Linked DNA regions of Homo sapiens. The protein of the gene in region 2 interacts with the protein of the main gene of each other region in a pairwise test. Each region holds a gene or a part of one and is shown on either strand. Other genes may lie near its edges.

Region 1 (4,730 bases), on a different chromosome or scaffold from region 2:
GTTTGCTGAGAAAAATTACTATAAGCATTTATTTTATGTATTATAAGTGTGGATAAAGAAAAAGAATAATAATAAAGCCTGTTATTAAAGAATTCCAGAGTATACGCATTCAGAAGAGATTGTTAGAGCTCTTGAAGAGCTCAGCCTTTATATTTAAAGTGCTTTGAAAGGAGAAAAGGAAAGTGATTTTCCTGAGATGCCACCCTGGGGAATATAAAGAGACTTCTGGAGACTTACCAGTTGTTAAATTCTTTGCCATTTGACCACTTCCATGGGTGACCAGGTTCCTTTTTCAGTCCAACCCAGTGTTCCTCTCTACCTGCGTATCGTTTTAGAAAGTTCTTAAAGAAAGCACAAAGGAGTTTGTTACATTAAACACCCTTCTGGGGAAGTAGATAGTAAATCCTGTTTCTCAAAAGCTGCAACTTGAGGCATGACAGCTTATCTGACCATGTACTCATTCTATATAGGATCAGCATATTTGGATTTCTGGTCTTTGAAGCTAAGCAATCAAATCAAATTTAAAAGATTAAATTAAATCTCATTTTGACCTCAGGCTGATCATATGGTTCTCTGGGATGACATTTTCCTACATCTGAAATAGGTACAATGTTTGTTTGTTTGTTTGTTTTCTCCACTTAGAAACGGAAGGAAAGCACTGATTAGCCATATGAATTAAAATAGTAGTATTTTATCTTTTTTTTATTCTTACCATGTCCTTTTCAGAATCAATGACAGCAAGAGTAGCACCATGTTCAGAACAAGCATTTTGGGCTGAAGTCCAGCTCCTCTTCACAGTAGAAATAAAGTAGCATTTCCTCTGGTAGCCAACCCAGTCCTCAGAGCATGAAGAAACATGGCTGTCTGATGGCATTGAGAATGTGTATTGGCCTGGACAATTGTATTGGCCCACTGTGAACAGAAAAATGCTTTGTTTTAGTAACAAAAGAAACCAAATACCCACAGCATGCAAAACTAGCCTTAGGATGCTATGTTGTGCTAGGTGGTGATAAAGTAAAGGATAAAAGCTAAAAAGTAGAATTCTGAAAAGGGTATGAAGAAAGAAAGTTCTCAGGACCATATCTGATCTTCCATTGTGCCTAATCATCATTGGATGGAGATATGAGGATGAGGGGATGTACTTTTGGTCATAATGTCAGAAAATGACAGAAATATAGAACAATTCTGAAAATTTGGACTAGATATTTCTTTGGACTAGAAAGGATAAAGTGCATTATACATTTCAAATAAGGTTTTGAATCTGAATGCAGAGGCGGAAGAATTTGAAGATGCAGTATTTATAGCACTAGGCTGGAAAGATGGAGAGAGTAACTAACTTTTAGGGAACCAATTCAAAATACAGAAAGACATATGACTCAGAATATCTCAAAACAATGGTAAACATTCCCATTTGTAAAAGATACAAATATATCTTGGTACAGCTGGAGGTATTGAATACCAAATCACTACTGACTCTCTGGGAACTTTTAAATATAATCTTAATTATTCAGAACTACCATTCTGTGTCCTTTGAGATAAAACACAAAAGACTGGCCACTTCCTGATTAATCTATGGCTTTAGATACGATTTTTTTCCATAATCAATGAATGTGAAGTTCACATTTTTTTCTAGCTAAATAGGTATTTATTCAGAATTCAAATCAGCTCCCTTCATTCTAGATGTAAACATCTTTTCAAATGCAATTTTATTCTACAGTAATATATAAATCATAGATACTTTTAATACTTATAAAAGTATTACATTAATTATTCAAGGATTGTGGAATTATGTTTAGTATTGATTAGGAAATTGGCCATATATGGTACATGGGATGATTCTGAATTAGCTAGTTTCTGATTAACTAGACTAAACTAATATTGATTTCAGCTGGGCATGAATGCTTACAGCTAGGAGGCTTTGAAAGAATTGATGAAGTGTAGACCCACCTGATAAGGCAATGAGAGCTATGATTAAAATGGTGATGAAGACCACATTCATTACAGCACACAGGACAGGAACTTGGAAGGACCCTTCATGACGTGTTGAGAAATGGGGACTGGTGGCATCATCTGGAAGGGAGAAAGTTGATGATGAGTTCAGGCAGACTATAGAAGTACTATAGGAATATGCAACATTCTTTTGAGGCATTTAAACTTAATATTTCCTATCTCATTATATGAAATTTCCCCGTCTCTTTATAGAAATTTCTAAGTTAATTTACCCCCAATTTTGAGTGAATTTGAATAGTTTATTGTTGGCTTGAAATGAAACAATTCAAGCATAATGATGAGATTATAAAGTGTCTCCCCAAAATATTTACCTGACACATATGATTTATACACTTAGTAACTATGAAAATTCTAAGTATATAATCAGTTTGTTTTAATGATGATAAGAACGTTTATTAAATATGCACATGCCCCAGAAGACACATAAAAAAATTCTAGGGCATGGTGGCTCACACCTGTAATCTCAGCATTTTGGGAGGCCGAGGTGAGTGGATTGATCACCTGAGCTCAGGAGTTCAAGACCATCATGAGCAACATGGTGAAACCCTGTCTCCACCAAAAATACAAAAAATTAGCTGGTCATGGTGGCACGCACTTGTGTTCCCAGCTACTTGGGAGTCTGAAGTGGGAGGATCGCTTTAGCCTGGGAGGCAGAGGTTGCTGTGAGCGGAGATTGCACCACTGCACTCTAACCTGAGTGACAGAGTGAGACCTTGTCTAAAAAAATAAATAAATAAATAAATAAAAAATTCTAGCATAATTCCTTAATCTCCTTGTAGTTACTGTTTGAGAGAAATGATGTGAATGGGATAAATATGGATAATATCATAAAGTAAAATATTGAATTGCTATATAAATATCTGACATTAAAATGACTGAACAAAATTTTAAACGTGACAGTATTTTTTGGTGAAGTTGCTGCAGATGTGGAGCAACTGGAATTTTCAGATATTATTGGTGGGAGAGTAAATTGGAAAAACACTTTGGAAACTGTTTCTTATAAAATTAAATATATGCCTTTTCTATGGCCCAACAAACCTACTCCTATGTATATCCTCAAGAAAAATGAAAATATGTTCTCAAAATGCCTTGTGCAAGAATGCTCCTAGCAGCTTTATTCTTAAGAGCCAAATTCCAGAAATAATCCAAATATCCACCAACAGGAAAATAAGTGAACAAATTATGGTATATCCATACAAGGGAATTCCGCTCAGCAATTCAAAATAAGACAACTGATACATGCAACAAAATGAAGGAATCTCCAAAAAAAATGTTGAGTGAAAAAAAATCCAGCCACAGAAGATTGTATACTACATATTTGCATTTACATGACTTTAAATAATAGTTGGTCTAAGCTCTGGTGTCAAAAATCAGAACAGTAGTTGCCTTTGTGTGTGTAGGAAAGGTAATTTAACTGGAATGGGACACAGGGCAAACTGTCTAGGGTGATGGAAAGATTCAAATGTTGCTGGTCTTGTGGTTATACCACTGTCATAAGTCGTTAAACTGTATACCTACGAGCTGTGCATTCATCGTATGTGAACTAAACCTCAATTTAAAATGATATGTGAATGAACAGTAAAAATTTGAATTTTTCAAAAGATGTTAAAATAATAGAGGAAATGTAACAGTATTATAGACCAAATATTCAGCGAAAGTTATTTCATTTACCCTCTGTACAATGGTGAAACAAAGTAAAAGCCTTTTTTTTTCCCAACAAGCAGTGTTTCTATGGAAGGATTTAGAATAAAAATATGATGTTAACGATAACTGATAGTTACAAAAAACTCTAAGAGGATGTCTGTTCTACACTCTAAGTAAATAACTGAGGAAGGAGAAAAGAGAATTTTGCGACTTAGATTTTGGATTTTAATTTTGCAGGATGAGCTGTCAGGAGTCTTAAAATGCGGCCCCACAAGGAGTATACAGGTCCCTATTATGTTCTCAAAAACCAAAATGTAAAATGGCTGCTTAAGTAACTGACAATGCAAAACAGTTTCAAAATAGAAAACATTCTATTTTTCAATATGGATGATTTTCATAACTTAAAAAAGTTTACATAAGACATATCTTGAAATACACATATTTTTACCCTTAAAACATTTATCTAAAGGTAAACTGGACCAAGAGAAGTTGCCTTTTTTTCACAGTAATTTACTGGGTACTGGTGTCCACATCAACTTTTGCTTTATCTGGAAGTTATTTTTCCCATCACAGATCGGCACTCAGATTTTGCAAGAGAAGCCTTTACTTCACTGCCGTCTAGCTCGATTTTCTCAGCTTCTCAAAGCAAATTTTTCTTTGTTCACCGGTATAGAATCATCATTGGAAGCCGCCTTTGCTACCCAAGGTACCAAGTTCGGAGCTCTGTCTGGTTTCACTTCACATTATGTGAGTCAGTCGTGCTGCTTGAACTCAGTATTGCAACAGCTCTGTCTCCTCAGTGAGCACTAACACACCCCAGTGACCCGTGGGTTCCAGAGTCTCAGTCAGCCCATCGGCTCAACGAGGGAGTAAGCTTTGGGATGACTCTCAGATGATACTTTATTCCCATTAATGAGGGCTACTGTTTTATTTATTTATTTTTTGAGACGGAGTCTCGCTCTGTCGTCCAGGCTGGAGTGCAGTTGCGTGATCTCGGCTCACTGCAAGCTCCGCCTCCCGGGTTCACGCCATTCTCCTGCCTCAGCCTCCTAAGTAGCTGGGACTACAGGCGCCCG
Region 2 (4,777 bases):
GTTTCTGTAGATTACATTATGCCTCCAGAAAATGGCCCTGATGTGCTAAGAACTAGCAAAGTAGTTATCAGGTATGTGTCTTCCACCAATAGGTAGTGATGAAGCCACACTGACAAATTCTCACCTTCCTTGCTTCCAGTTCCTAGATTCTACTGGGCTTTGATTGACTGTTGTCATCCTCTGGTGTCTTCATTTTGACACTCTTGTGTCACATATTGTCATTTCCAAACATGGGGCTATGACAACACATGAAAACACATGAGAGGTCTCCTTAATCTCCTGCCTAAACTGTCTTCAAGTTCCCTCTTTAAATACGTTATTAATATGCATAGTGTGCAGAGTCCTAGAAACTTCTGTTACACAGGGTGACATCTTCCAACTTTGTCTCTGGATTCTGCCTAGCATCTTACATGCTTACATCTTACATCTTACATCTTACATCTTGCATTCTGCCTAGCATCTTACATTAGCTCTTACATGTCTGTCTGTTGACTTACTGTTGACTGAACCAGCAGGGCATTGGAGAGAAGTAAGAGCTAGATGTAGTGGTGGATTCTGTGGTCCAAATTCATAGATCACAAACTTCATATGTACCAGAGTATGTCTAGGTACTGGGAGATGTTCTCAATTCTGACCCTCTGAGAGGGCAAAGGATGTAGCATCTCTTCTCTGAGTTGGTTGTCAGAATGCCCATGGTACCATTTCACCACTCTGTCCCCAGGAGCAGTCATTGGAAGGTTGACGTAAATAGGGTTGTATGGGAAGACACAGCCCAAGGTTAGATGTTGGTGACCTTGTCTAGAAGACAGAGAGTTCCCCTTTCCTGAAAAAAGGAAGTAAATGATTAACCACTTCTCATTAAACACTCAAATACAACATTTCAATACTCATGGTTTTGAGATTTCAAAACCAGACAGTGCTTTGCTACTTACACATGTCTTATGACACCAAGCCAAGCTCCTGGATGGTTGCTGGCTCTGTTAAATGACTAATTATGCAAGGAGATATCATTTCTAGGTACGTTAAAGTGAAGAGTTACCCTTACTCAATTTTCAGTTGGAATAAAAACAACTGTAACATATTCTGGGGTTTCTTTTTTTTTTTCTCACTCGTTTTAGTTTGATATCAAATCAAATAATGATCATATCCATTGCATCAGTGGATATGCCCTCAAGATAATATGGATTTAGAACCAGAACTTTCATAATGTATTTCTATTGAAATGTTAGTTTCATAAGCGATGATTGGGTTTTCATGCCCATGTGTGAGATGTGCCTCGCTCAAACCTTGTTATGATTTGGCACGTTACCCATCTGATGTGAAAAAAATTACATTTTATTTGTACAGGCTCGTTATTTTACTGATGAATAATTTGAGCCCACCAGAGGATAAATGAATGACCAAGGTCACCCAGCTCATGACAGGGACGGTTGAGTGTTACACTGAATATAGTGAGGTACTTCTTATATTTTAAAGACAGAATGCACCAAAAAATTTAAAGAACACAAAATCCAAGGCAGAAGCTCTGCCTTTTATATTATCTTTTATTGGAACTGATTTACAATGGAAGGTAAATGCAAATTTGCACCATGTATTATTCTGAAGTTCCAAACATCTGTGATGAATACAAGCCTGTACTATAAGACCCAGTCACATTGAAAATATGGAGCTGAGAAGAGGTAAGCTGCTGTTGAATGGGCTCCTTGGGATAGCCAGTACCTTCATCTTCATTCATCCTGCTGAGCTGTTTCGGCTTTAAGTTCTTTAACAATGTCTTTTTAGCAACATCATTACATCATTTTAGGCCAAAACTCAAAGTCCAGAGATAAGAACCCTTAAGTCACTCATGTAACTGCACTGTGTGTTAAAAGTATTTCAGTTCAGCCAAACACTCTTCTCCTAGGTATTGCGATTTAAGTATATTTACTAATCCACTCTTGCTTCACTATTTTCATTCTCCTCCAAAGTCAATACAAGATGTTTAGAACTGTGCTGGAAGTGCAGAATTCCGAATGTAAAAGCGCATGACTTTGTCCTCTTTATCCCCTTTACATCTAGCTGCTTACGTCTCATGAAACTGAATTTTCAGTTATCTGTTGGTCCACATTTGAATAAGAAATTATCTTGAATTTGAAATGCTGAGCTGTAATAGCAGTTGTAATTTGTAAGTCCTGAGAGTGTCCTGTCCTCCGTTGTTAATCCCAGTCAAGATCATCTGAGAGTTGGTCTCCAGGGAACCTCAGATCTCTAGGATGTTGCACTGGAAATGGCTGCAGGATCTTTCCACTAATTCTGAGAACTGAAAGAGTTAGGAACTCTATTTGGAGAGTTCCTGGTTCCCTTATCGTGTGACAGTTCTAAGTCAATTTTGTCATGTGGTTTTCTGACTCACAGACTAGTAAGAAGTTAGTAATTAGAGAGCTAAGTAGATTAGGGTTGTTGGAGATGAGAAACCCACGTTTTGGGAAAACCTGGCAAGTGACAACTTAACATCAAGGAAGTAGTCAGAAAAGCTAAAACTGACAAACAGAAGGTAGAAGAAAGTAGCTCCACACTCATGGGATGTGAAATCTACAAGCGTGCATGCCCGGCAAATGCCTCTCCAATGCACTGGAGCGTTTTAAGTGGAAACCACTAGAATCTCTGTGTAGTCTCCGGAAGTGGCTGTGAGGGCTGCATTATCTCTGCACAGCTTCCTCTTGGTGGGCCCAGCTGTGATCTTTATGGATGGCACACATCAGCTTTCAGGAAAAGCACATGAAAGGTGCTAGGGCTCTTGGAGCTGACTGTAGGTTTGGGAGTTGTCTGTCTCCTTGCTCTAGATTACAGCTCTGTGTGTTGTGTGGGGTCTCCATGGTTTGCCAAATTATCTCTTCCTCACTTAGCCACAAGGCTGACAGTTAGGAACTATCTCTTCTTGATTGCATTAGGTTGGCTGCTTCCTGAATGCATATCAAAAGGCTCCTTCCTTTAGTTCAGTGCTTTCAACCTGAGCTGTGCATCAGAATCACCTGAGGTCCTTTAAAAAAAAAAAAAAGACAGTGGGCGGGGCGCAGTGGCTCACGCCTGTAATCCCAGCACTTTGGGAGGCTGAGGTGGGCAGATCACTTGAGGTCAGGAGTTCAAGACCAGCCCGGCCAACATGGTGAAACCCTGTCTCTACTAAAAATAAAAATAAAAAAATAGCCAGGCGTGGTGGTGCGTGCCTGTAGTCCCAGCTACTTGGGAAACTGAGGCAGAGAAGAATCACTTGAACCTAGGAGGTGGAGGTTGCAGTGAGCCAAGATCATGCCACTGCACTCCAGCCTGGGGGTGACAGAGTAAGACTGTCTCAAAAAAAAAGAAAAAAGAAAAGAAAAAAGACAGTATTCAGGTCTCATCCCTGGAGACTCTCATTTAATAGTTGTGGGATGGATCCACTGCCTAGGTGACTCTGATGTGCATTTAGGGTTGGGAACCACTGACATAGCCATTAAACTGTCCCTAATCCCACTGTAAGGTTTTCTAGGATATTTTCCCAGAAATAACTAAACCACCTTCTTAGAGAAGGAACATCCTGATCCTGCGTCTGGACTTTGGAGTCATTCTTATTTTCAGAACCTATAGCCATCTATTCCTTGACAAGATCTGTTGGGTTGGGTTGCACTAGACTGGAAAACATCAAGAAATTAATCTAGACACAGACCTAAAAGGAAGATTTGCACGTTTTGATTTATTTTACTGCTTACACCCAGCATCAAGCTCCATGTGGGGCACATAGAGGAGCCTGAATAAAACTATTATTGGTTGGATGATTAGATAATTGTGTTTCCTCGGCAGAATCAAACTCAAGTCAAATGTGTGGTTACCGGGATTAAGAACAGAAAGAATAGAGGGGACTCCTGAGTGAGTTTCACTTTCTCTCTCTTTTTGTTATTGTTGTTCATTTGTTTTGTTAATAGAAAGATCAATATAGCTATAGAGCATTTAAAATAAAAGGATTTGGGCCAGGTGTGGTGGCGAATGCCTGTAATCCCAACACTTTGAAAGACTGAGGTGAGAGGATTGCTTAAAGCCAGGAGTTCAAGACCAGCCTGGGCAACAAAGCGAGATGCCATCTCTACAAAAAATGATTTAAAAATTAGTGGGGTGCCTTGGAGCACGCCTGTGGTCCCAGCTATTCAGGAGGCTGAGGCAGGAGGATTGCTTGAGGCTGAGAGGTCAAGACTACAGTGAACTATGATCAGGCCCCTGCACTTGCTCCAGCCTGGTGACAGAGTGAGACCCTGCCTCTCTAGGAAAAAAAAAAAAAGAATTTGGTGGGGGGGGATTAATAAAAGTTCAGTGCCATCCTGTTCAGAGTGATTCAAAGGTGGCTTAAGTCAAATACCACATTTAGAAATTTTTGTTAGGGACGGATGATTATGGATGTCTCACTGGCCATGCCCAAATCAGAGTCAATGCTATGGGTGGCTTTCTAGGCAGCAATGGTCATTTGGATACTGAAAATGTAAAAGGAGTGGGCTTCAATCACAGAAACACAGAGAAGTCTCTTGCTTTCAGAGGAACAGGCCTCACAGCCCCTTCCTGCCCTCCCTTGTTGCCCTGAGGATGAAGTGGGAGGGAGAAAAAGGCACCCACTCATCAACCCAACATCATAGCTGCACCTTCCAGTGACCACCCTGGTGGTCTCACTGACATCCCTTTCCAGCCAACTTCTCTCTGACTTCTGCCCCAGGCTCTCAAATGAAAGTGCTTTTGCGAGGTTACCAAAGTACACTTTGAAGTCTTTAATTTG

Evidence for each region. The genes of interacting proteins can lie anywhere in the genome.
Region 1: the proteins of PMP22 (region 2) and CD69 interact in binary tests that used the Homo sapiens proteins (3 or more experiments, as listed by UniProt).

The regions. Positions count from the first base shown.
Region 1 is NC_000012.12:9,754,350-9,759,079, forward strand, and holds part of CD69 (early activation antigen CD69), read right to left. Parts: intron 2,071-4,730; coding exon 1,948-2,070; intron 913-1,947; coding exon 713-912; intron 342-712; coding exon 238-341; intron 1-237. UniProt on the Homo sapiens protein: Transmembrane protein expressed mainly on T-cells resident in mucosa that plays an essential role in immune cell homeostasis.
Region 2 is NC_000017.11:15,234,327-15,239,103, reverse strand, and holds part of PMP22 (peripheral myelin protein 22), read left to right. Parts: intron 1-1,222; exon of another isoform or gene 1,223-1,319; intron 1,320-3,819; coding exon of another isoform or gene 3,820-3,857; exon of another isoform or gene 3,858-3,885; intron 3,886-4,777. UniProt on the Homo sapiens protein: Might be involved in growth regulation, and in myelinization in the peripheral nervous system.